3 linked regions of the Homo sapiens genome follow. The protein of the gene in region 2 purifies or fractionates together with the protein of the main gene of each other region. This does not show direct contact. Each region holds a gene or a part of one and is shown on either strand. Other genes may lie near its edges.

Region 1 (7,710 bases), on a different chromosome or scaffold from region 2:
ACCTTTAGTGACCACGTGCCTTGCCTCAATTTTCTGAGATGGATTTGATTTCAAACATTCTGTCCTCATGTGTACTTGCTCGGGCCACAGGTCCTGAATTTGAGAGTCTATCAGTGGGGGTGTTGGTCCATTTGAGCAGGTCCAGGTGGGTCAGAGGTTTTCTGCAGAGGAATTGAAAGCGCCACACCTCCTTCTTTGCTCCTTAGCTGTGTGGTGGATGAGATGGACTTCTCCTCCATGGATCTGGATGATGCGCTCCGGAAGTTCCAGTCCCATATCCGGGTTCAGGGTGAGGCCCAGAAAGTGGAGCGACTCATCGAAGCCTTCAGGTGTGCCTACCTCCCACTCGCGAAGCTGCCCCTCCCTCCTGTGGGCATCGACGTAGTATGTGTTTATAAGTCACTTCTCTGAGCCTCATACTTTCTTCACCATAAAACAGAGATGATAAATCCTATCTTGCAAGGCAATTGTGAGGATCAGAGGTAGTGCATATAAAGTATCTAGCTCAGCCTCTGGGACATGGGCATTCGATAAGTGACAACAACATCAGCAATAACAGCTAACATTCACGGAGCACTTACTAGGTATCAGGTGCAGAGCTGAGCACTTTACATGATTATTTCACCGAATAATCACAACCACCCCATAAAGTAGGCACTTCTGTTATTATTCCCATTTTACAGATGAGAAATCAGAAGTTTAGAGAGGTTAAGTAACTTGCCCAGGCTCATACAGTGAATAAGTGGTAGAAACAGGATTTGAACTCGTATGTGTCTGAGTCCATGATCCATCCATGCCCTTAACCATTTTACTGTACTATAAATGCTTTGGAGATCAGATAGACTGGGGTCTAAATCCTGGCTCTGCCACTTTAGGGTATTTAGAAGAGAAACAGGAGTTGCTGAGAACTTGTTTCCCACAATGGGGGAAGGATTTGCTTTGCAGTCAGAAATAACTGGGTTTTCATCCTGGCTTCACCATTTACCAGCTCTATTACCTTGGGCAAGTTACCTCGCCACTTTGAGTCTTAGTCACTTCATCTGTAAAATGGGACTGCCAATAGCTACCTTGCAGGATTATGATAGGATTACGTGAAACAACGTACATAAATCCCCTGGAAGAGCTCTGTAAAAGGTAGCGATTGTGATTTTTACATGCTGGTCTAGGGGAAGCTCTGAAGAGGACAGACCCAGAGATCAAGAAAGTATTTCTTGCAGGAAAGGGTTGCTGGTGCCAGACTGGGTGGATGGTGGGTAGGCAGAGATGGCTGGTTCCTGAGTCTGGCTTTGACCCCTCCTGCCCTGCAGCCAGCGGTACTGTGTCTGTAACCCAGCCCTCGTGCGCCAGTTCCGGAACCCAGACACCATCTTCATCCTTGCTTTTGCCATCATCCTCCTCAATACCGACATGTACAGTCCCAGCGTCAAAGCTGAACGAAAGATGAAACTAGATGACTTCATCAAGAACCTGAGAGGTGACTTCCCTGTCAGCTTTTCCTGCCCTTCACCTGGAAAGGGAAAGTGGGGGGTAAGGGGAAGGATGCAGGAGATCCCATCTGTTCCTTGGAAATTAATTTGTGATGCTGTCACTTTCTGCCCTAGCTGGATGTTCCCAGGATATTCACTTATTAATTCACTCAAATCGTCATTTGCCCATTGTACTGAGCTTCTACTGTGTACCAGGTTTCTAGGTCCTGGGGTTCAAGCAGTGAACATGATAGATTAAAGTCCTGACTCTTACAAGGCTTTACTCTGATTCATTCATTCATTCATTCAGTAATTCACTTGTCCTTTCCTCGCTCCTTCTTTCCCTCTCTTATTTATGCCCATGAGGACTCATTTAATTATTTTAGGTACCTTTTCCTCTATTCATGCATTCATTTATCACTCGACCAAACAACCAGCCAGCCAGTCAACACTTAGCGCTTAGTGTGTGCCAAGCCCCATGATGGGTGCCAAGGACAATGGAGGGGAATCTGCCATACTCCCTGTTCTGAGAGAGCTCCCTGTGTGTGGGAGAGGCTGACTTGTAGCACCCAGATAACTAACATAAGACAGAAAGTGAACAGTGACATCAGAGAGGCCAAAAGTGCAGTCAGAGCTCAAAGGAGGGAGAGCCCACCTCTAGCTAGCTTCCTGGAGGAGGTAGTATTTTTATTTTAAGGTGGGTCTTGAAGGCATGGAGAAGGTGACACAATAGAGATAGAGGAGGGCTTACCTAGCAATGAGAATACCAAAGGCGCAGAGGCAGGAACATTTATTTTCTTTAGGGAACAATTGAGGGCTGGGTACGTTGGCTCACACCTGTAATCCCAGCACTTTGTGAGGCTGAGGCAGGTGGATCCCATGAGGCCAGGAGTTCCAGACCAGCCTGGCCAACATGGGGAAACCCCATCTCTACTAAAAATACAAAAATTAGCAGGCATGGTGGTGCACACCTGTAATCCCAGCCACTCAGGAGGCTGAGGCAGGAGAATTACTTGAACCTGGGAGGTAGAGGTTGCAGTGAGCTAAGATCGCACCACTGCACTCCAGCCTGAGTGACAGAGCAAGACTCTGTCTTGAAAAAAAAAAAAAAAAAAAAAGAACAATTGAGATGAGGTCATTGATGGGTTGGGAAGGTCCCAATATATGAGGTTCCAATATATGGAACCAATATATGAGGGCCTTGAATGCCAGATGAAAGGTGTCACCTTGCTCTTTTTGCTTATTCTACTGATGTCGAGCCCTGCCTATCACCAAAGAGCAGCTACTAAAAATGGTACAGATGTTAAGATTATTTAAGCAGAAAAGAAAGAGGGAAATAGAGTCAAAGAAAAAAAGCAAACTGAACACAAGACAAATTGGCTGCCCATCAGGTTTGTGCCGCTGTGGCTGCTCTGGTAAGAAAGTCAGTGCGATGTAGTATGTTCCTTTAGCACCTGTCCAAGGAGGAGATGTGACATTTCCAAGGAAGAAAACATTTTTTTTGTTTTCTGTTTTTTTATTTTATTTGTTTTTTTTTTTTTTATTTTTAGAGACAGGGTCTCACTCTCTCACCCAGGCTGGATTGCAGTGGTGCTAGCAGAGCTCACTGCAGCCTTGAACTCCTGGGCTCAAGCGATCCTCCCACCTCAGCCTCCTAAGTAGCTGGGACTATAGGCGCGTGCCACCATGCCCAACTAATTTCTAAATTTTTTGTAGAGACAGGGTCTTGCTAGGTTGCCCAGGCTGGTCTCAAACTCCTTGCCTCAACTCGGCCTCCCAAAGTGCTGGGATTACAGGTGTGAGCCTCCACGTCCTGCCCAGAAAACATTTTCTCTAGTAGAGGATTTAGAGAGAAGAGTGAGTGGGTTTCACTCAGCAATCAGAAGTGGAGAAGGATGGTGAACATGGGAGGAGGGAGTTAGATCAGAGGCCATTTGGAGCTGTCTCCTAGAATTTTGCCATCATTCATTCATCCATTCTTTTTCCCTCTCTCTCTCAATATATGTGTGTGTGTGTGTGGGTGTGTGTGTGTGTATGTGTAACTTCCCCCTCTAATTATTAAATAAATAAGCAAATAAATGAAGGTAATACATACTTTATTTCAGAAATGTTGGAAGATTCAGAAAATTAGAAAATTTCTTTTTATCACCCAAAATGTGCCCCCTAGAGGCAATCATAGTTAATGTTTTGGTGCGTTCTAATCTTTTCCCCCATGCATATGTAACTTTTTATATAGTTCAGATCATACCACACATGCAATTTATCTTACTCTTTTCCCATAATTTGCTACTGTAATTTTCTCATGCTATTGAAATGTTTTTGTAAATGTCAAGTTTTTAATAGCTGTGCATTATCTTATTAAATGGATATACTATCCTCTATTGTTAAAATTTAGGTTGTTTCAAATTGTCCCCATAAGTAACACTTAGTGAGTTTTTTTTTTTTTTTTTTGAGACAGGGTCTTGCTCTGTTGCCTAGGCTGGAGTGCAGTGGTGCAATCATGGTTCACTGCAACCTCCTCCTCCCAGGCTCAAGCTATTATCCCACTTCAGCCTCCCAAGTAGCTGGGGCCACAGGTGTGTGCCACCACACCCAGCTAATTTTTGTATTTTTTGTAGAGATGGGATTTTGCCATGTTGCCCAGGTTGGCTCTCGAATTCCTGGGCTCGAGCGATCCACCTGCCTCAGCCTCCCAAAGTGCTGGGATTATACCACGCCTGCCCTAGCATTCTTTTTTTTCTTTTTCTTTTTTTTTTTTTTGAGACAGAGTCTCAATCTTGTTGCTCAGGCTGGAGTGCAGTGGCGCGATCTTGGCTCACTACAGCCTCTGCCTCCCGGGTTCAAGCAATTCTGCCTCAGCCTCCCGAGTACCTGGGACTACAGGCACATGGTGCCATGCCTGGCTAATTTTTTGTATTTTTAGTACAGATGAGGTTTCACCATGTTGGCCAGGATGGTCTTGATCTCCTGACCTCGTGATCCACCTGCCTCGGCCTCCCAAAGTGCTGGGAGTACAGGCGTGAGCCACCATGCCCCGCCTGCACTAGCATTCTTGCACATACCTCTTGCACATATTTCTGAGTAGTTCCTTAGGGTAGATTCCTAGAAGAGAATCACTGGGTACAAACATTTAGGTTCTTGCCAAATTACCTTCCAAAAGAGTTATGTTACCATACATGCCCACTTCCCTGCACTCTTCCTAGCACTGGATTTCATTTTAAATTATTTTTGCTAATTAGGAAGGCAAACAATAGTATCTGATTGTTTTAATTACAGTGTATTCTGAGTTGTTGAGAAAAAATTCCCCACTCTGGGGAAGATAGCAACTGGCTGTTGTACTGAAGGACACCCTCCCTGCCCCAATCCTGGCTAAGGGGCCGAGGGTACCCATTGACCCTCAGTCCTGACTATCGTGGCCCGTGCCTGGGTGTGGGGGTGGTGGAGCACCCCTACCACCCAGTGCCCATAATTATGTGACATATCCCTGTGTTACTCCCTCCCCCAGGGGTTGACAATGGTGAAGACATCCCCCGAGACCTCCTGGTGGGCATCTACCAGCGCATCCAGGGGCGTGAACTGCGGACCAACGATGACCATGTGTCCCAGGTGCAGGCTGTGGAGCGCATGATTGTTGGAAAGAAACCAGTAAGTGCCTTGGGAGGCTGCAGAGGGGCCAGGGTTCAGGTCTGCCTCTGCCACTAAGTGGTAAGTCACTGCACCTCCCTGAGCCCCAGGTGCCCTTTACCTGCAATACAGAGTGGGTGATAATGCATTCCTCAGAAGGCTGTGGTGCAGAGTGAATGCATCGAGCACATTCCAAGGCCCATAGTGGGTACTATATAAATATTAGCATCCTTTTCACCTCCGGCTTTGCCTGTCCATCCTAAGTGAAGAGCCAAGCTAATGGTTAGCAGAAAACCAAAGTAAGAACACACTTTAGGCCAGGTACAATGGCTTGTGCCTGTAATCCCAGCACTTTGGGAGGCCGAGGTGGGTGGATCACCTCAGGTCAGGAGTTCCAGACCAGCCTGGCTATCATGGCAAAACCCTGTCTCTACTAAAAATACAAAAATTAGCTGCGGGCGTGATGGTGCATGCCTGGAGTTCCAGCTACTCAGGAGGCTGAGGCAGGAGAATTGCTTGAACCCGGGAGGCGGAGGTTGCAGTGAGCTGAGATCGTGCCAACGCACTCCAGCCTGGGGCCACAGAGCAAGACTCCGTCTCAAAAAAAGAAAAAAAAAAAGAAAACGCTTTAGCCAACAAACATTTGTGGATGCCTTTCCACTGAGCCCAGCATTTGCTGGGCACCAGAGTTGGTGCTGGGCATTCATAGATATGAATCAGACGTGTTCTCTATCCTTGGGGGCACTCACAGACCAGTCGGGGTGTGAAACAAAGACACATATAATACTTCTGCTTTATGGTCCAGTTTAGGAGAGGAGAAAGGAGAGAGAGACCATTTTCAGCCTGGAGAAATCAGGGAAGGCTTCTTGGAAGAGATCATTTTGGGATTGAATTTTTTTTTTTTTTTTTTTTTTTTTTTGACATGGAGTTTCACTCTGTCACTCAGGCTGGAGTGGAGTGGCATGATCTCGGCTCATTGCAACCTCTACCTCCTGGGTTCAAACGATTCTCCTGCCTCAGCCTCCTGAGTACCTGGGATTGCAGGCGCCCACCACCACACCCAGCTAATTTTTGTGTTTTTAGTAGAGACGGGGTTTCACCATGTTGGCCAGGCTGATCTCGAACTCCTGACCTCAAGTGATCCGCTCGCCTCGGCCTCCCAAAGTGCTGGGATTACAGGCGTGAGCCACTGCGCCCGGCCGGGATGGAAATTTGAAAGGGAGTTGAAATATGACCATGCAGAGCTGGGCAAGAAAGACATTCCAGACAGAAGGGCAAAGGCAAGGTAGCAGATAAGTTTAGGTCTTAGTTGCTGATACCCCTTGTGTCAGAGTGACACACATGTATGAGTGGTAAACTTCTTGCGGTTGAAAGTTAAGGTGCCAGGAGGCCTGAAGCTGATGGGCTGGCCTTGCTGACACCTGTTTCTTCATGCCTGTCTAGGTCCTGTCTCTCCCTCACCGTCGACTGGTTTGCTGCTGCCAGCTCTACGAGGTGCCAGATCCAAACCGCCCCCAGAGGCTAGGGTTGCATCAGCGGGAGGTCTTCCTCTTCAATGATCTCCTTGTGGTATGAGCACTGTGGGGGAGGAGATGGGAGGGAGAGAGTGAGCTTGACACCTAAGTCTGGTGTGAACCATATTGATGTAGGTGTGTGGTGTGTGGAGTGTGGCGGGCGAGGTGTTCTGCCATGCCATCTGCATGGTCTCAGGCAAGGCCCAGGCCTTCTCTGCCCCTCCTTTTCCTCACAGATGCATTTGGAGGTAGTAACAGACACACAGGGACAGAAAATATGAGGACCAAAGGAGATGACAGACTTACAACCTGGGAAGTGGTAGGAAATATCCCTGTCCACCTCAATAGCCCATAGGGTTGTGTGAAGAGGGGTGAACCTGCGACCCCCCAGGTCAGTCTGGAAATCTTCAGTAATCAAGATGCTTGAAGTGGGCTCGGCACTGTGGCTCACACCTATAGTCCCAGAACTTTGGGAGGCCAGGGCAGTTTGAATCACTTGAGCCCAGGAGTTTTGAGACCAGCTTGGGCAACATGTCGAAACCCTGTCTCCACAAAAAATACAAAAATTAGCCGGGCATGGTGGTGTGCACCTGTAGTCCCAGCTACTTGGGAGGCTGAGTCGGGAGGATCACTTGAGCCCAGGAGGCAGAGGTTGCAGTGTGCTGTGATCGCACCACTGCATTCCAACCTGGGCAACAGAGCCAGACCCTGCCTCAAAAATAAATAAATAAATAATAAAAACAAAATTTAAAAAAGATGCTTGGGCCAGGCACGGTGGCTCATGCCTGTAATCCCAGCACTTTGGGAGGCCGAGGTGGGTGGATCACCTGAGGTCAGGAGTTCAAGACCAGCCTGGCCAACATGGAGAAACCTCGTCTCTACTAAAAATATAAGAAATTAGCTGGGCGCAGTGGCGCATGCCTGTAGTCCCAGCTACTGGGGAGGCCAAGGCAGGAGAATCGCTTGAACCCAGGAGGCGGAGGTTGCAGTGAGCTGAGATCGCTCCATTGCACTCCAGCCTGGGCGACAAGTGAAACTCTGTCTCAAAAAAAAAAAAAAAAAAAGATGCTTGAAGTGATTCTTCAAACTGAGCTCATTACAAGTAG
Region 2 (8,186 bases):
GTTAAATATTTCAGTGTCAAAAATAAAGGATTCTAGACAGTGACTGGATTTGCTTGCTCCAAGGGAAGAGGTTTGACCCCTCCCATGAAAAGTCTGGAACTTCTGGAGCTAGGGACAGGTGCAGCACACAGACTCAGGGAGTTTCAGGGGAGCACCTTATTCCTGTGCCTCTAGGAAGGGTGGACATTTTCCCTGGAAGCAAGCAGATCTGGCTGAGGACAGCCTATCTCTGTCATACCTAAAAAATACAGGCACCTCTTCACATCTCAACAGTGAAGTCCCAGATGACCACCCTGACTGCCTCCAGCTCACCATAAAATCCTCTCCCACTGTATCTTACACTGCCCAGCCATCCACCAGTCGCTGAAAGACATGCACTGGTGTCTCAGGGGCCCTTTGTTGCCAGCAAGAGCAAAGACAGGTCACATGCTATATCTTGCTGAAAAGTGAGTTAGTGTTTTGGAAGGTCAAATGGAGGAACTAATTTATACCACACAGAAAAAAATGTGAAATGGGTGCTATGAGTGTAAAGTTCAGTGATTTGGAGGGCAAATTCCAGAGATATTCCAGAAAGAGAAAAAGGCCATTAGGGAGAGAAATAAAAAAGAAATAGCAAGAATCTTCCTGTAACTAAAGTAAGATGTGGGACTTGATTCGGAAAGGGCTCACCAAATGAATCTCACATAAAATTAATGAGACCCTCATAAAATTAAAAAAGACCCTTATCTAGACATAGTTTGCTGGAATTTCTGAACTCTAAGAGTGGAGAGGAAATTGTATCAGCTTCCAGACGGAAGGAATAGATTTTTGTACCAAGGTAAAAAGAATCTGAATAGTATTAAAATGCACATCTGCGAGACTGTAAGCTAGAAGATAGTGGAACAGTGTTAGCAAATTATTGTGAAAAGGATGCAATACAATAATCTTATACCTAGCAAAGGTATCATTCTATGTGAGATCAGAGCCATTTTATAGATACAAAAGAGTTACCTCCTAAGTAAACAAAATGACTCTAACAATTATTTTTACAAAATAAAAATGAAATCCCACTAAATAGTTCAAGAGAAAGAAATGCAAAAAGTATAGGAAGCAGTGGTAAGTTATGAATTGAGTAATTATAGTCCAAATTATATTGTTGTCGTAGTGTTATACATCTGGAATAAATTTTTCTGAAATCATCTGAAGGCTTGGAGAGCTAATAGGAAACACCAGTGGAAAATAAACTCCTGGTTCTATTGTAGTTCTCCTACAATGTCCTCAGTGTTTTCATTTTTGAAAACTTGAATAACATTTTAATAGGATCTGGACTGTTCCATGTTACTGTAATGTGTATTTTAGTCCTTATGTCCTATATTGGCCTAGAGAATATTTTATTTAGTGTTGGTATACATATTTATATGTGCATATTACAGATTTTATCCCCCCGAATGACAGAGATTTTGAAGTTAAGATAGCAAGAGTACTGTGTACTTTAGTTTGTTCTCTTAACAAGGATGTGCATACCTTCAACGTGCACAGCTTGATGTCAGAGCCTGGCGAGAAACAGGGATGCTGTAGAGATGGCACCGCTATGCAAGGAATGGGAGCTGTGTGCTCATGTGCCAGTGATGTACCATCTGCCCTTTGCCGTCCTGACGTCAAGACATGGACGTCTGGTTGCATGTTAGCAGCTGCATTCAGCACATGCTTCTGAGAGACCGTTTTGAGGAATGTAGTTACTGGAGATTGTGTCTGAGAGTTGTGGTTGCTAAGTCCCTGACATCACTCCTGCAGCCTCTCTCTTGTGGCTGGCTGTCCTCTGTGAAGATAAGAAATCTGGTGACAAGTTATATGTGGTCTTTGAGGCAGCTCAGTGTTCTTGATGTGTCCTCTGACACATCTGGGTTGCAGATGTCTTAGTGAGTGCTGGCCCCTTGTTCTCTTCTAGGGAACAGCTCTTTCGAATTGTCCTGCCAGTTTCAGGGTTTGCGAATGGGGTGACGGGCCCTGCAGGGTCCATCTCAGTGACAATTTTCCTGGTGTGGGACATCTTTGCTGTCTGTGGGCCACTCTAGGGGGAGTGCTGTGAATTGCTCCGCATACCAGTGATGCTCCTGAAACACGGCCATGGACAAGCCTGTGCAGGTGGCGGAGTAAACATTGCTTCTTTAGATGTCAAGTGTCCTTGGAGTGAATTCACACGTTGGAAGCATGTGGCTCCATCAGTAATTGTGCCCACACTCTGAGTGTCTGGACTGGATGAAATAATTATCTCCTTCTTCGTTCTTTTGGGAATATTCATACTGCTGTAACCGTGACCATCTGGTACACTCAGTCTCATAACAAGATGTGTTTTGGGCACCACTACAAACAAGGTGCTGTGTTTGGAGCTCTGGGGGGATACACAATATGGAAGGCCTTGAGTTTGTGGCCTAAACTAAAGAGACAAGAGGGGAAGAGGAGGTACAGGAAGGCAAGATGAGAGCCCGGGCAGTGACTGCTGAGGGTCACTGATAGCTCCTCTTTCATCTTCACTTCCTGCTCCCATCTGAGCCCAGATCCCTTTGCTTCTGCCACCTAAGGTCCTCACTGAGCCACTTCTCCACTGTCCTCTCTACTGTTTTAGTTTAAGCTCTCCTTTTTTTTCTTTTTAAAAATTGCAGTAAAATAGACATAAAAAATTTAGCATTTTAAGCATTTTCAAGTGTGCAAGCTCTTAACTGGACTACTGGAATATGTTTTTTTAAATAATTGAACTATCATGCAAGCAAAAAGGCATGTGTAATGTAAGAGTACAGTTTAAAGAATATGACAAACATTTGGGGAAGCAATTAGCTGAAGAAGTAGAACGTTGCTGGGCGTGGCGGCTCACCCCTGTAATCCCAGCACTTTTAGAGGCCGAGGTGGGCGGATCACGAGGTCAGGAGATCGTGACCATCCTAGCTAACACGGTGAAACCCCGTCTCTACTAAAAATACGAAAAATTAGCTCGGCATGGTGGGGGACACCTGTAGTCCCAGCTACTCGGGAGGCTGAGGCAGGAGAATGGTGTGAACCCAGGAGGTGGAACTTGCAGTGAGCTGAGATGGTGCCACTGCACTCCATCCTGGGCGACAGAGCGAGACTCCATCTCAAAAAAAAAAAAAAGAAGTAGAACGTTAAGCAAACTTTTGGACGTCCTCTGTGCCACTTTCCTGATGCTAGCCCCTTGCTTTCCCCCAGAAGAGAGAATAGCCTTTTCACTGGTCTCCCTGCCTCTAGCCTCTAGCCTCTGTCCCCACGCCAGGCCCAGAGAGACAGGGCTAAAAGAAAAAATGTTGAAAATGGCTCAGTGACTGTGCACATGTCTTAGTCTGTTTTCTGTTGCTATAACAGAATACCTAAGACTGGTTGATTATAAAGAATGGAGATTTGTTTCTCACAGTTCTGGAGGCTGGGAAGTCCAAGGTCAAGGTGCCAGCATCTGGTAAGGGCCTTCTTGCTATGTCATCCCAAGGCAGAGGTGAGAAGGTGAGGGAGAATGAGAAAGAGAGCAAGAGAGAGCCAAACTCACTTTTATAACAAACCCACTCTCACAATAAAGAACTTCCTCCCAAGATAAAGACATTAATCCATTCATGAGAGCACAGCCCTCATGACCTAATCACCTTTCAAAGGTCCCACCTCTCAACACTGTTGCATTAGGGATTAAGTCTCCAACGCATGAACTTTGGGGGACATATTAAGGCCATAGCCGTGTGGTTTGGGGGATAAAGTGCAGAGTCCTGGGCACTGGGTCCAGGCCCTCTCCCAGTTTGGCCTGCCAGGTCTCTGCAGCTGCCCTGTCACCCCACGATACCTGCAGGCTGCGGCTGCACCCTTTGTCCTCTTCTCCCCATGGCCGAGCAGTGCTGTCCCCTCTGCTGAGCCCTCCAGCCTGCCACGCTGGGGACTTGTGTAGAGCTTTTCTGCACATTGCTCAGCCTGGATGGTCCCTGCGCATCCAGTTCCTCGGTGAACATTGTTCAGTTTGAGGGGGAAGAGGAGGGAGAGGATGGGATAAGCCTGAAGGGGAAGGTACCCAAGATAGTCTTTGAGGGGTCATGGATTTAGATTGGGAAGAGTTATTGTCCCTCCTCATTGGTCCTCATTATGTCTTCTTAATGAAAGCTGCTCATTTTCTTCGTGAGAGCAAACAACCTGATCTTCTGACCATTTGTCTTGGTCACCTGGGCTACCCAAACTGAGTGAGAAGTCAGGAATGAGCCGGTAGGTTCCTGGGGAGAGGCGTGTGTCCTCGTGAGTTGCCGGTGCCTCCCTTGACTGCTTTTCCCGGAGCTCTGTGTGCCCTCGTTCTCCTTGGTGTGGATGCGTGTTGTTCTGATGATGAGTTAGCGGGGGTGGGGATGGCGCACTGTTTGAACAGATGTGCCCTCACATGGCTGCGGGAGGACGTGGTGGGAGGTGCTGTGGTGAAGTGGCCCCACACATGGCTGGGCTTTGTGGGGTTTTGACTCTGTCCTTCCCAATGTTCCTCCCCACAGTGGCTGCCTCCGGGTGATGATGGCTGTGTGAACGACTGCCATGGCCCACCGGAAGCTTGAGAGCGTGGGGAGCGGCATGTTGGACCATAGGGTGAGACCAGGTCCTGTCCCTCACAGCCAGGAGCCCGAGAGCGAGGACATGGAGCTGCCCTTGGAGGGCTATGTGCCCGAGGGCCTGGAGCTGGCTGCCCTGCGGCCAGAGAGCCCCGCGCCAGAGGAACAGGAGTGCCACAACCACAGCCCCGATGGGGACTCCAGCTCTGACTACGTGAACAACACCTCTGAGGAGGAGGACTATGACGAGGGCCTCCCTGAGGAGGAGGAGGGCATCACCTACTACATCCGCTACTGCCCTGAGGACGACAGCTACCTAGAGGGCATGGACTGCAACGGGGAGGAGTACCTGGCCCACAGTGCACACCCTGTGGACACTGATGAGTGCCAGGAGGCGGTGGAGGAGTGGACGGACTCGGCGGGCCCGCACCCCCACGGCCACGAGGCTGAAGGCAGCCAGGACTACCCAGACGGCCAACTGCCCATTCCGGAGGATGAGCCCTCCGTCCTTGAGGCCCATGACCAGGAAGAAGATGGTCACTACTGTGCCAGCAAAGAGGGCTACCAGGACTACTACCCCGAGGAGGCCAACGGGAACACCGGCGCCTCCCCCTACCGCCTGAGGCGTGGGGATGGGGACCTGGAGGACCAGGAGGAGGACATTGACCAGATCGTGGCAGAGATCAAGATGAGTCTGAGCATGACCAGCATCACCAGCGCCAGTGAGGCCAGCCCCGAGCATGGGCCTGAGCCAGGGCCTGAGGACTCTGTAGAGGCCTGCCCACCCATCAAGGCCAGCTGCAGCCCCAGCAGGCACGAGGCGAGGCCCAAGTCGCTGAACCTCCTTCCCGAGGCCAAGCACCCCGGAGACCCCCAGAGAGGCTTCAAGCCCAAGACCAGGACCCCAGAAGAGAGGCTGAAGTGGCCCCACGAGCAGGTAGGACCCTGGCTGTCCTGGGGAAGGGAGCAGAGGGGCCCGAGAGCAAGGGACCTCAGGGTACAGGCCTTGCAGATGCTGAAGCGAGGCGGTGGGGGGTGCTGGGTGCCTCACAGTTCTAATGGTGGCTGAGCTCTTCATTGGTCCAGTTGGGAGACATGTTGCGTGGATGCTCCGGCCACTCTTAAGCTCACCGCTCAGACTCAGGACTAAAGCCGGTTGAGGGCTGAGTGGCAACTCGTGTCTCGCAGAAGACACCCCTCCTCCCACCCTAGAAGAGAGGTTCGATTTCTTGCCCACTGCCCTGGTCTGCTCATGGTGGGGCAGTATGTGTGGGAGAGCCCCTCAATCCTCAGGGGTGTACTCAGACCAGCAGGGCAGTGGCAAAGACGTGGGGGTGCTGGTGCTCACCCACTGCTGCGGCCAGTGTTGGGTGGCCTGGTGGCTGGGGTCGGGGCCAGAGTGCATTTCACAATGGACGGGTCTCTGAAAGCCCGGGGGCCTTGGCCTGATGGGCAATCAGCTGTGAATACCTATTTGGAAAAGGATTTTTTGAAGGTTTGACAAAACCTCGGGGAAGAAACGCATGCTAATGAGGGCAGTGGATGTCAGCATAACTGTATTTTAATTATAGCAAAGTCAGCGTGCATTCTAATAAACACATTTGAAAAGCCACCTTCCAAAAAAAGCCTCACTGTGAGTATATAAAGAAGATGTGATTATTGGACTTGTGTGAAGGAACTTCTATTTGGCCAATTATGTGGACTTCTGTCATATTTTTTTACAGCCTTAACTGTTAAATATTTTTTTCCGAGAAGAGTTCATGAATTTGAGTGTGTGTGTGTGTGTGTGTGTGTGTGTGTGTGTGTGTGTGTGTACTGAGAGCTTGGGTTTGGAATGGAAATCATTGGATTTTCAGCACTTATATTTTAATTGACTCCTGGATTTTCAGCACTTGTATTTTAATGTCTTGTATTCTCTCTAAAGAACGTTAAGTGTCAGTTGACTTCACTTTGGGGGTGTTCCTGTCATTCACAGCAATTCCGTGTTTACAGGGGGCTGTGGGATGCATAGGAGCTCCCATGGTACTAGTGGGTGTTGGGAGAGTTCACCCCTAAGGCCAGGAGGCTCTGGACCCTGGGTCTGGGCTTTAGGCCAAAGCAAAGTGTTTCTTTGGTCTTTAGCAGGGCCTGGGCTTGTCCCACAACAGTGGTGAAGGCACCTCAGGGATTGACGTGGGCTGTGCAGAGCGTGTGACATGCTGCGTCTTATTGTGACAAATGGCATCGCTAGCCAAGTTCTTGTCAAAGAAGATTATCTTTAGAGCGTGGTGGGGAGTAAGCAAGACCTGATATTTTCTGGTTTTGTGCTTCATGCTAACCAGATGGTAATTTGGGTAAAAACACAGAGATCTTGCGATTGGAGAGCTGGGAGGTAAATGAGTGGGAATGAATGGATGGATGGGTGATAGTAGCTGTTTAAAAGGGCAGGTGGAGGTAGGGGAAGTCCCCAGCCATTGTGGAGGATCAAGAGGATGTCTGTTCTTCCCAGAAGAGGCATTGAATGAAAAAGTATGTCACTTCTCCCCCTAAGGAGAATGTGTCCTTGAAGGACATGCTCTTGTCTGAGACACTGGAAAAGTTCATTTAAACTGGTTAATGATTGTATAGCTTTTGTTTTGTTTTGTTTTTCCCTCCCTCCCTCCTTTCTGTCCTTTCCTCCTTTCCTCCCTTCCTCCCTTCCTCCCTCCCTCCCTCCCTCCCTCCCTCCCTCCCTCCTTCTCTCCCTCCCTCCCTCCCTCCTCTCTCTCTCTCTCTCTCTCTCTCTCTTTCTTTCTTTCTTTCCTATCAGTTCACAAATTAATTCTGTCAAGGGGAACACCTGCTAGTTCCAGAGTTCCAGGCTGACAAGTACCCTGGTGCCAGGGGCCCTGACTACTCTTTCTGAAGACTCTACCAGGCCCGCTGCACGTGGGCAGGGTCTCCACATTCTTAGATTTGAGTACCCCATTCCAGATGAGGACCTCTTTGAAACCTGACCAGAAAGAGCCGTAGAATTCATCTTGAAAGCAAGATTTTTTATGAAGGATGTGCACTGGGAGATTTGGTGCTGCCTTGCTTGAAATAACAACCTGCTTTCCTAAGAACAATCCCCTTCCTCCCCTGGGGGACAGCCAGGCCGTGCCAGGAGCCAACAAAGGCCTGGCCTCAAGCAGGTGCACAGGGTGCCATGTGTCCCATGCTCACCTCTCTGATCCCAGTGCTGTCCACATAGTGTAGTGATCCCTATGGTTGAGGCTGCAGTAAAAAAAAAATCTGAAGGGAGAAATGGGCAATATTGGTCACTTAGATGCTGTAGACTCCTGTTTTTAACCCTAACCCAGCAGCATTGGCATTACTGGGGAGCCCCGCCCCCACATTGCTGAATCTGAAATCTGCATTTCAACAAGATGCCACATTCCAGCTGTGATGCTGTAGGAGACTCACTTGGAGGAAATTGTGTAGCAACCCTCCCCTCTCTTCTACTCATTTTACAGCTTGAAAAAGTGTGTCCTGGATATTTTGAAGAGGACTGAATAGCATTTAGTCATTGCACGAATGGCAATAGTAAAATAGAGTTAGAAAAAATGGGAAGATGAAAAATGTATTCTCCATGGTCCCTACTACCCTAACGGATGAGCTATTTCATCAGTG
Region 3 (6,597 bases), on a different chromosome or scaffold from region 2:
TCAGGGAAGCTAAACATGTTCCTGGGATTCGGTGGCACAGAAGTCACATGCAGCCAGGGAGGAGGAAGAACCATGATCTCAAGGTCTGAGTCAGGTGTCTCCCAGCCAGACTTAAGTGTTAAGGGAAGTGGGGGGGATGAGCAAACCGGTTTCCATACGTTTTTTAATTATGTCAGTGATCGGTATTCTCAAACACCAGCTGCTGCTGGTGGTGTGACCTGAACCCCTGCCTCTTCCAGCCATCCATTAATTTTCAGATAGATGCATGCCGACAAGCCCAGTCCTGGGGCTGTCACTGGACACACACAGGCGGATCATGCAGCTCACAATCTCAGGGCAGGGGGAGACAAACACAATCCCCAGAAGATCACCGCCTCGGAGCCCTGGCCTAGCTCACCTACCTCCAGCAGCTCCTGGGCTGTAGATCTGCGTAGTAAAAATCAAACCCTGAGGCAGAACCGGGTATTTCAGGGAATTTTTGTACCCAGCTTCTCTTGAAGGGCCCCTGAATAGTCTGTAAAAGGGATGGACGCCCAGTTGCAGAAACAGGCATTGTGCAAGGCACTTGTGTGTGTGCACTGAAATGGCTGGTTTCCTGGTTTCAGTCTAGATGAGCCAGTAGTGGCTATGAATGAGACTGGAAGAGGGGGCCCCTGTGAGAACATCTTTCAATCAGAATGTGCTGTACGGAGGGAGGGCCAGAGTTCATTTTGGTCACCAAAATTAACTTTTTTTTGTTTGGTTTTCCACTAGTTAGATCTGCCAGTTCCTTTTATCCCATGCACTGAAAGTTTAAAGTGGTGTTCTCAGGAATTATGTTTGGCCAGGAAAGGAGAAATCGCAGAAGCCAATTACATCCTCACAGGCCCCTTCCTTCCAGGAGAATGACTTTACCATCTTGGCTTTTGTACATGATATGAGCCAACATGGAAACGCAGGCTGCTCTGAACTCCTGTCATCATCCATCTTTACTGGGGACTGGGCCACTGGGTATTTTTTTCCCTAAGTCATAATCAGTGTACCTCAACGCTTAATAGAATTCATCCCCTCTAACTCCATGAAAGGACCATCACTTGTTGAAAGTTGCTAGAAATTATAAATACCTTTGAAACCTTCTATTGGTTGTGATGTGTCCCTTTATTTTAAATTTTGTATCAGTGTCCTCAGTCAGTCCAATGTCTTCAAGGAAAGTGAGTGCCCAGAGTCACAACAAGTAATGGGGAAACTCATCAGCTGGAGATCTGGGTCTGGCCAACAGGGCAACTTCTGGACTTTTCAGAAAAAGTGAGAATCCGAGAGTTTCAAAGGATTTATTTGATTTCCCCACATGATCACAACCATGGTTTTACATTGATAGAGTCTGTTGCCACTGACAAACAGAATGCAGATGAAAACAAACGCACTCCTTTCCTCTCAAAGGTACACAGTGGGGGTGCCAGGCTTCTTGTGAGGGAGGTGTCCCTTGAAGTCTCTGAACAGTCTGGGGATTCAGGACCTGATTCTAATTGCTTAAAACAACTCGGAGGCAAAAGATATTTTCCAAGAGGAGATGCATGCTGTGTGCAGTCTCGATGTGACTGCACACAGAAGGGCGATGCAGATGCATCTGAATGGAGGGCAGGCCTCCTCCCTCTTGTCCTGTGCTCAGCACCCCCACCTCACCCTGCTCAGTGTTGCAATGCTGCCTTGACTATTGTTGTTACATAAAATACAAATGTACTCGTTTCTCAGGCAGGAAGGGTGATGATATTTTACAAGGAGAACTGTAAGACTGTGCGTGCTTACCTGCGGGCACAGAGCTTCCCGTGGCGCTGAGTCAACACCCAGCATCAGCTGTGAACATCTGCTGTCTTTTCAGCTCATTAAGAAAAACAAGAGGCTCCTGCTGCATGCAGTGTGTGAGGGAAAGATCACTGCACTGGGTGCTGAAGACATTTTTAAGCAAGATGTGCACAGCATATTAGGATGAACTTTATTTTTACATTGTTGTACAATTCATTGGTAAACTTAAAAAAATACAAATACATGATTTGATTGTTGTCCCAGAAAAGACTTTTGTCACATTGCCAGCTGTTTCCCTCAGCGTCTCCTGCTCCTGTCAGCAATTCTGTATGTAACTGCAGTAATTTGTGTGACTTGAGAAAGGTGTGCCAAGGGCGTCCTCACAGTGAGAAGGGACCAGGCAGACATCCTGGGGCCCTCGGCCTCCTCCTGCCTCCCCTCCCAGGGGATGTGATGACAGGACCCCGAAGCTGTGGCTCTGACAGGTGGGATCTCTAAAGGGGACAGTCCCATGAAAGACACACGGGGACACCAGCTCACTGGGAGCTTTTGCTTTCCCAAACAAGATGTGGGCAGCATGACTCCAGCCTCTGGAACCCAACAATGTATCTTCCACAAACTTTTGATAAGCTTGCAAATAAAACAGAATGAAACCTCACTAGCCTGAAGGAACACACTGAGTGCGGCGGGAAACCCCGGGAAGGGCTCAGTGGGTTCCAGCAGTTCCTTACGCGAGGCCCTGCTGCCCAGCACAGCTCCAGGACACACCGAGGACAGTGCCACAGGCTGGCAGCCCGAGGCTGTGGAGCTTGCAGGATGGCGATGGAGAGGGAGAGTTTCCTGAAAGCCCCTCCTGGGGTTTTCTGTCTGTTCCTATTCATTACTGCTACCCTTCAGAAAGAGCAATTCTGTGCCAAACGGCCTGAATCTTTTCTGGAACAACCTAAAGGTTACAGTTAGACTCTCCTCCCAGCACAGAAGAGGGTGAGAAAAGCTGACATACTCAATATGTAATCGCTTTACTTCAACGATGTGTTTACAGTCACGCCAATACATTTTGCAAACGCACAACACGCAGAGCGCAGCCTCACAGCTGACGCCAGATGACATGCAGCAGTTTAACGCTTCCAGGTCGGAACAGCCTCCTCAAAATTGCGAGACAGAGTGCTTTGGGGAGCCTGGCTTTTAAAAAAGACCCGAGAATTGATGAGTCGGAGACACCAGGGCGCTTCCCTGACAGCCCAGCCTGGACCCAATCACACGGTCCCATGCTGTTTCTTTCTGAGCAGACACCAAAGAAATGCCACGCCAATGGGAGGACACAGGTGGGCGGGTTAAAGTCACATTTTTAAAAAGGCTAAACTCTAGATTGCTGTATTTGCTCTCTCTGGAGATTAACAAAGTGCTTGGTTTGCAGATTTGCTGGTACGGTGATCTCAATGATATGACCGAGGGTGGGAGGGATGTGAGGAGGGAAATCGGCAAAACCCTGGCCAGCCAGCCAGCCAAGGTGACACACAGCCAGAGGGGGCTCCCCTCTCCTCCTGCCGTCCGGCCACGGCTCACCACGCTGTCCACTGGGAACGCGGCCCCGCGGCCCGCAGAGTCAGGCGTGAGCTTCGCCCTTTCTGAAAGGGCCTCCGCCTGGGCAGGCGCCGGGGGGCAGTCCTCGGGTCCCATGGCTTAGGAGCACAGCACTGACGGCTGCAGTGGCTCGAAAGGCTGAAACTACAAAGTATGGCCCGTGGGTGACTCGGGCACAGACCTGCCGCGTGCAGGTCTGGCCCTGGGGAGCGCATGGTGTCACCACAACACAGAAGCGACAAGAGCACAGCTGAGAGTCATGTGATGCCCTGGCAGCTCACTGGACCATGGGAAGGCAGCGGGGGCTCCGCCGGGCACTCGTCGGCTGGGGTCACACGGGCCACGGTGAGGACACAGGGGTTCTGCTAGCACATGGCTACATGGAATTACGGTGATCACTGCTACCACTCAGAAAACAAAACGGGAAACACACACACCGCCCTGGGTTGCTAAACGCTAAAGTCAACCTTCAGGTTCGAGAGTGGTTCCTGATGAAAACACTCTCTGAGGGCTTCGGCCTGGTGTGGGTTGGAGGCGGGATGAGGACGTTATGGTGTTGGGGAGACGAGGATGAGAGCTGGTCACTTTCATGTTGGAGATGAACACTTCTGCCGTGTATGGGTGCCCCTCTCGGAGGACTCTGAATGAGTGTGCGTCAAATCATATGCGCATAAAAGAAACATGGATCATGGAGAGTCACAGTTATCGCAGCCATTAAAGTGTCTAAGAATCCGTGTAACCAATGTCCTAAGACAACCAGCTTGTAACCAGCTGTCCTGAGTTGCTACTGTAGAGTGTACTGCAGTTTAGCTATTTGCTTACCTGAAATAACAGCATTATAATACTATTTATGATAGTATTCTGTTAATAAAATAAGGATTTATACAAAGCAATACTGGACTTTTTAAACAGTTAGATGCTATGTTACTTGGCACAGTTAGTAATGATTGTGTAAAGATTTTAGCCAGTCCTAGAGGGACTTCTTTGTATGAAAATATGAAGTATCTGAATTTGTTCCTAGCATTTAGGGTTTGGTCTATTGTCTCACACACCCAGCTAAGGTACTGTCTTCCTATTAGGTAAGTGGAGCTCCTTGTAAGGTGGGTATTGCTAATGTGGACTGAAACGCCTGCCTTTCACACACAAGTACTACCTATACAGTATATATATATATATATTTATATATTTATATATTTATATAAAGTTTACTTACGTATTTTCATCAACCATATCAGGTCTACTTATTTTTTTGCCCATTGTCAATAAAAGAGCAATAATGCAGCAAGTTTTGGGGTTTGTTTTGTCTGTTTTTGTATCTCATTTCTTCGTTTTCTAGGTTGGGTTTTCATATGCATGTACATTAGGGCACAGGGAGCTGAGAGCTGGAGTGGGGGAGGCAGTTCAACACTACTTGGCTGGCTCACCGTTTCAAGGCTGATGGTGTCTGAGGCCCACCCATCCCTCAGACTGAGGTGAGCAGAGCCCAGGGTGCCAACAAGAAATGAAATCTGGGCCTTTGTTCCACACAACACCAGCCCTGTGGGCTCCTGGGGCTCCGGTTGGGCCGTGAGGGGCAGAGGGGAGAGATGGCAACAGAAGTGCCCCGGGTTTGGTGTGCGGCTGGCGACCCCCGGGCGTGCCCTGTGTGGTGTGCAGGTGTTTCAGGGAGCCTGGGACCCCTACCCAGGCTGTCTACACAATTGTGCTGATGCCGCTGGGTTTGGCCTTGCTGCTGGTGGGGGGCGGCGGGGCAGGGGGCTGCCCATGGTGGTGCACTGTGTGCCCCACGTGGGCCGAGGGCAGCGGCGGGTGGCCGTGGGCATGGGCCCCGTAGGCTGGGTGGCCCCCATGGGGGCCGTGGTGGTACTGGTGTGCGTGCTGGATGTGCTGGGGTGGGTGGTGGTGGTGGTGATGGTGGTACGGGGGAGGGTTCTGCATGTGGCAGTACTGGGTGTGATGCCCGTGCATGGCGGCCTGCGGCAGCCCCTCTGGGGGCCCCAGGTGGTGGCCAGCCACAGAGTGCTGCAAGTGAGGCAGGACCACCGGTGGGTGGGGGGGTGGCAGGGCTGGGGCTGAGGGCAGGTGGGCCTGGGGAGGGGGCTTCCCTCTCTTGCTCCCGAATAAGGAGCCCAGGAGGGAAGATGAGTTGGGCATAGTCTGGTGTGGGCGAGATGGACACTCTCGTGTTGATGTAGCTCTCCGGCGCATGTGAGGACTGCTAATGATGGACCCCTAAAAAGGAAATTCATAGAAATCAAAATTAAAAGATCTTCAAGCACTTAGGTCAGAATGATTTTTTTTTTTCAAATGTAAAAATTCACCCACTGACTGCTAAGCTTTAGTTCAACTCACTGGCCAGAGGGTGGGGCTCAGTGAGGCTGGACTGGGCCCCGCCTCCTCTCACTACAGTGCAGGGCAGCTGGGGGTTACTGGCCTTGACCAAAGTGGGGAGTGAGGGCAGGGGAGGGGCCCATCTCTCTGACCACCACGGCAGAAGTAGGACTTCTGGTCTCATTCTGACAAGCACTTTGGCCCTGGCAGCAGCCTGAGATTTCAAATTGGAACCCCTAGGTTGGGGTGTCTGTGCGCTGTGTGTGGCGAGTGCAGAGGGGCTGATGTGCCTGGAGGAGGAGCCCTGCTCCTGCTGAAAACAGGGCCCTCAGCTCTCCTGGGACTGCTCAACTGGGCTGAGGGCATGTGCTCCGCCCATGTGGGTCCTGAGGTCTCGGGGGAGGTGGTGACAGGGACAGGTGGGGCTCAGAAACCTTGTCCTCTGGGAGAATGGGCTGCCTAGGCATTTCACTACAGCTGCCTACTACAAACCAAACAAGGAAAAAGAAGGTAACAGAAAAAGATCTGCAAGCTGAGGTAGAGATGTGAACAGTAATACAGAGATGGCCGGAGGATGAGTGAAATATCATGAAATCCACACTGAATCTCTTTCTCTCAAGACACTCCTCCTCCCACAAGCTAAGCAATTCCATGGTGTCCTGCCGCAGACACACAGCAATCAAACTCCAAGAAGAAAGCGATGAGGATGGGCGGGCGTGGAAGTCAAGGGTTCAGCAAAAACATCCAACAGCAAGTGTGGAGGGTGAGTGGGAGCCGGGTGGCCCGGGCGGGGGTGCCGGAAGCTGGGGATGGTCAACCATGCTCAGGGACCACAGGTGATGGGGTTAAGCAGAAACCAAAACACAAAATCCAGAACCACCCCCACTGTTGAGTCCAAAA

The links. Proteins that work in one complex are often made in the same cells at the same time.
Region 1: the proteins of APBA2 (region 2) and IQSEC2 purify together in Homo sapiens (co-immunoprecipitation; 3 studies listed by BioGRID and IntAct, with this or other methods). This does not show direct contact.
Region 3: the proteins of APBA2 (region 2) and IQSEC1 purify together in Homo sapiens (co-immunoprecipitation; 3 studies listed by BioGRID and IntAct, with this or other methods). This does not show direct contact.

Annotation. Positions count from the first base shown.
Region 1 is NC_000023.11:53,240,733-53,248,442, reverse strand, and holds part of IQSEC2 (IQ motif and SEC7 domain-containing protein 2), read left to right. Parts: intron 1-206; coding exon 207-329; intron 330-1,307; coding exon 1,308-1,474; intron 1,475-4,971; coding exon 4,972-5,111; intron 5,112-6,533; coding exon 6,534-6,659; intron 6,660-7,710. UniProt on the Homo sapiens protein: Is a guanine nucleotide exchange factor for the ARF GTP-binding proteins.
Region 2 is NC_000015.10:29,049,343-29,057,528, forward strand, and holds part of APBA2 (amyloid-beta A4 precursor protein-binding family A member 2), read left to right. Parts: intron 1-4,502; 5' UTR 4,503-4,542; coding exon 4,543-5,493; intron 5,494-8,186. UniProt on the Homo sapiens protein: Putative function in synaptic vesicle exocytosis by binding to STXBP1, an essential component of the synaptic vesicle exocytotic machinery. May modulate processing of the amyloid-beta precursor protein (APP) and hence formation of APP-beta.
Region 3 is NC_000003.12:12,895,925-12,902,521, forward strand, and holds the end of IQSEC1 (IQ motif and SEC7 domain-containing protein 1), read right to left. Parts: intron 5,599-6,597; coding exon 5,059-5,598; 3' UTR 3,511-5,058; coding exon of another isoform or gene 3,466-3,510; 3' UTR 1,119-3,465; downstream 1-1,118. UniProt on the Homo sapiens protein: Guanine nucleotide exchange factor for ARF1 and ARF6. Guanine nucleotide exchange factor activity is enhanced by lipid binding. Accelerates GTP binding by ARFs of all three classes.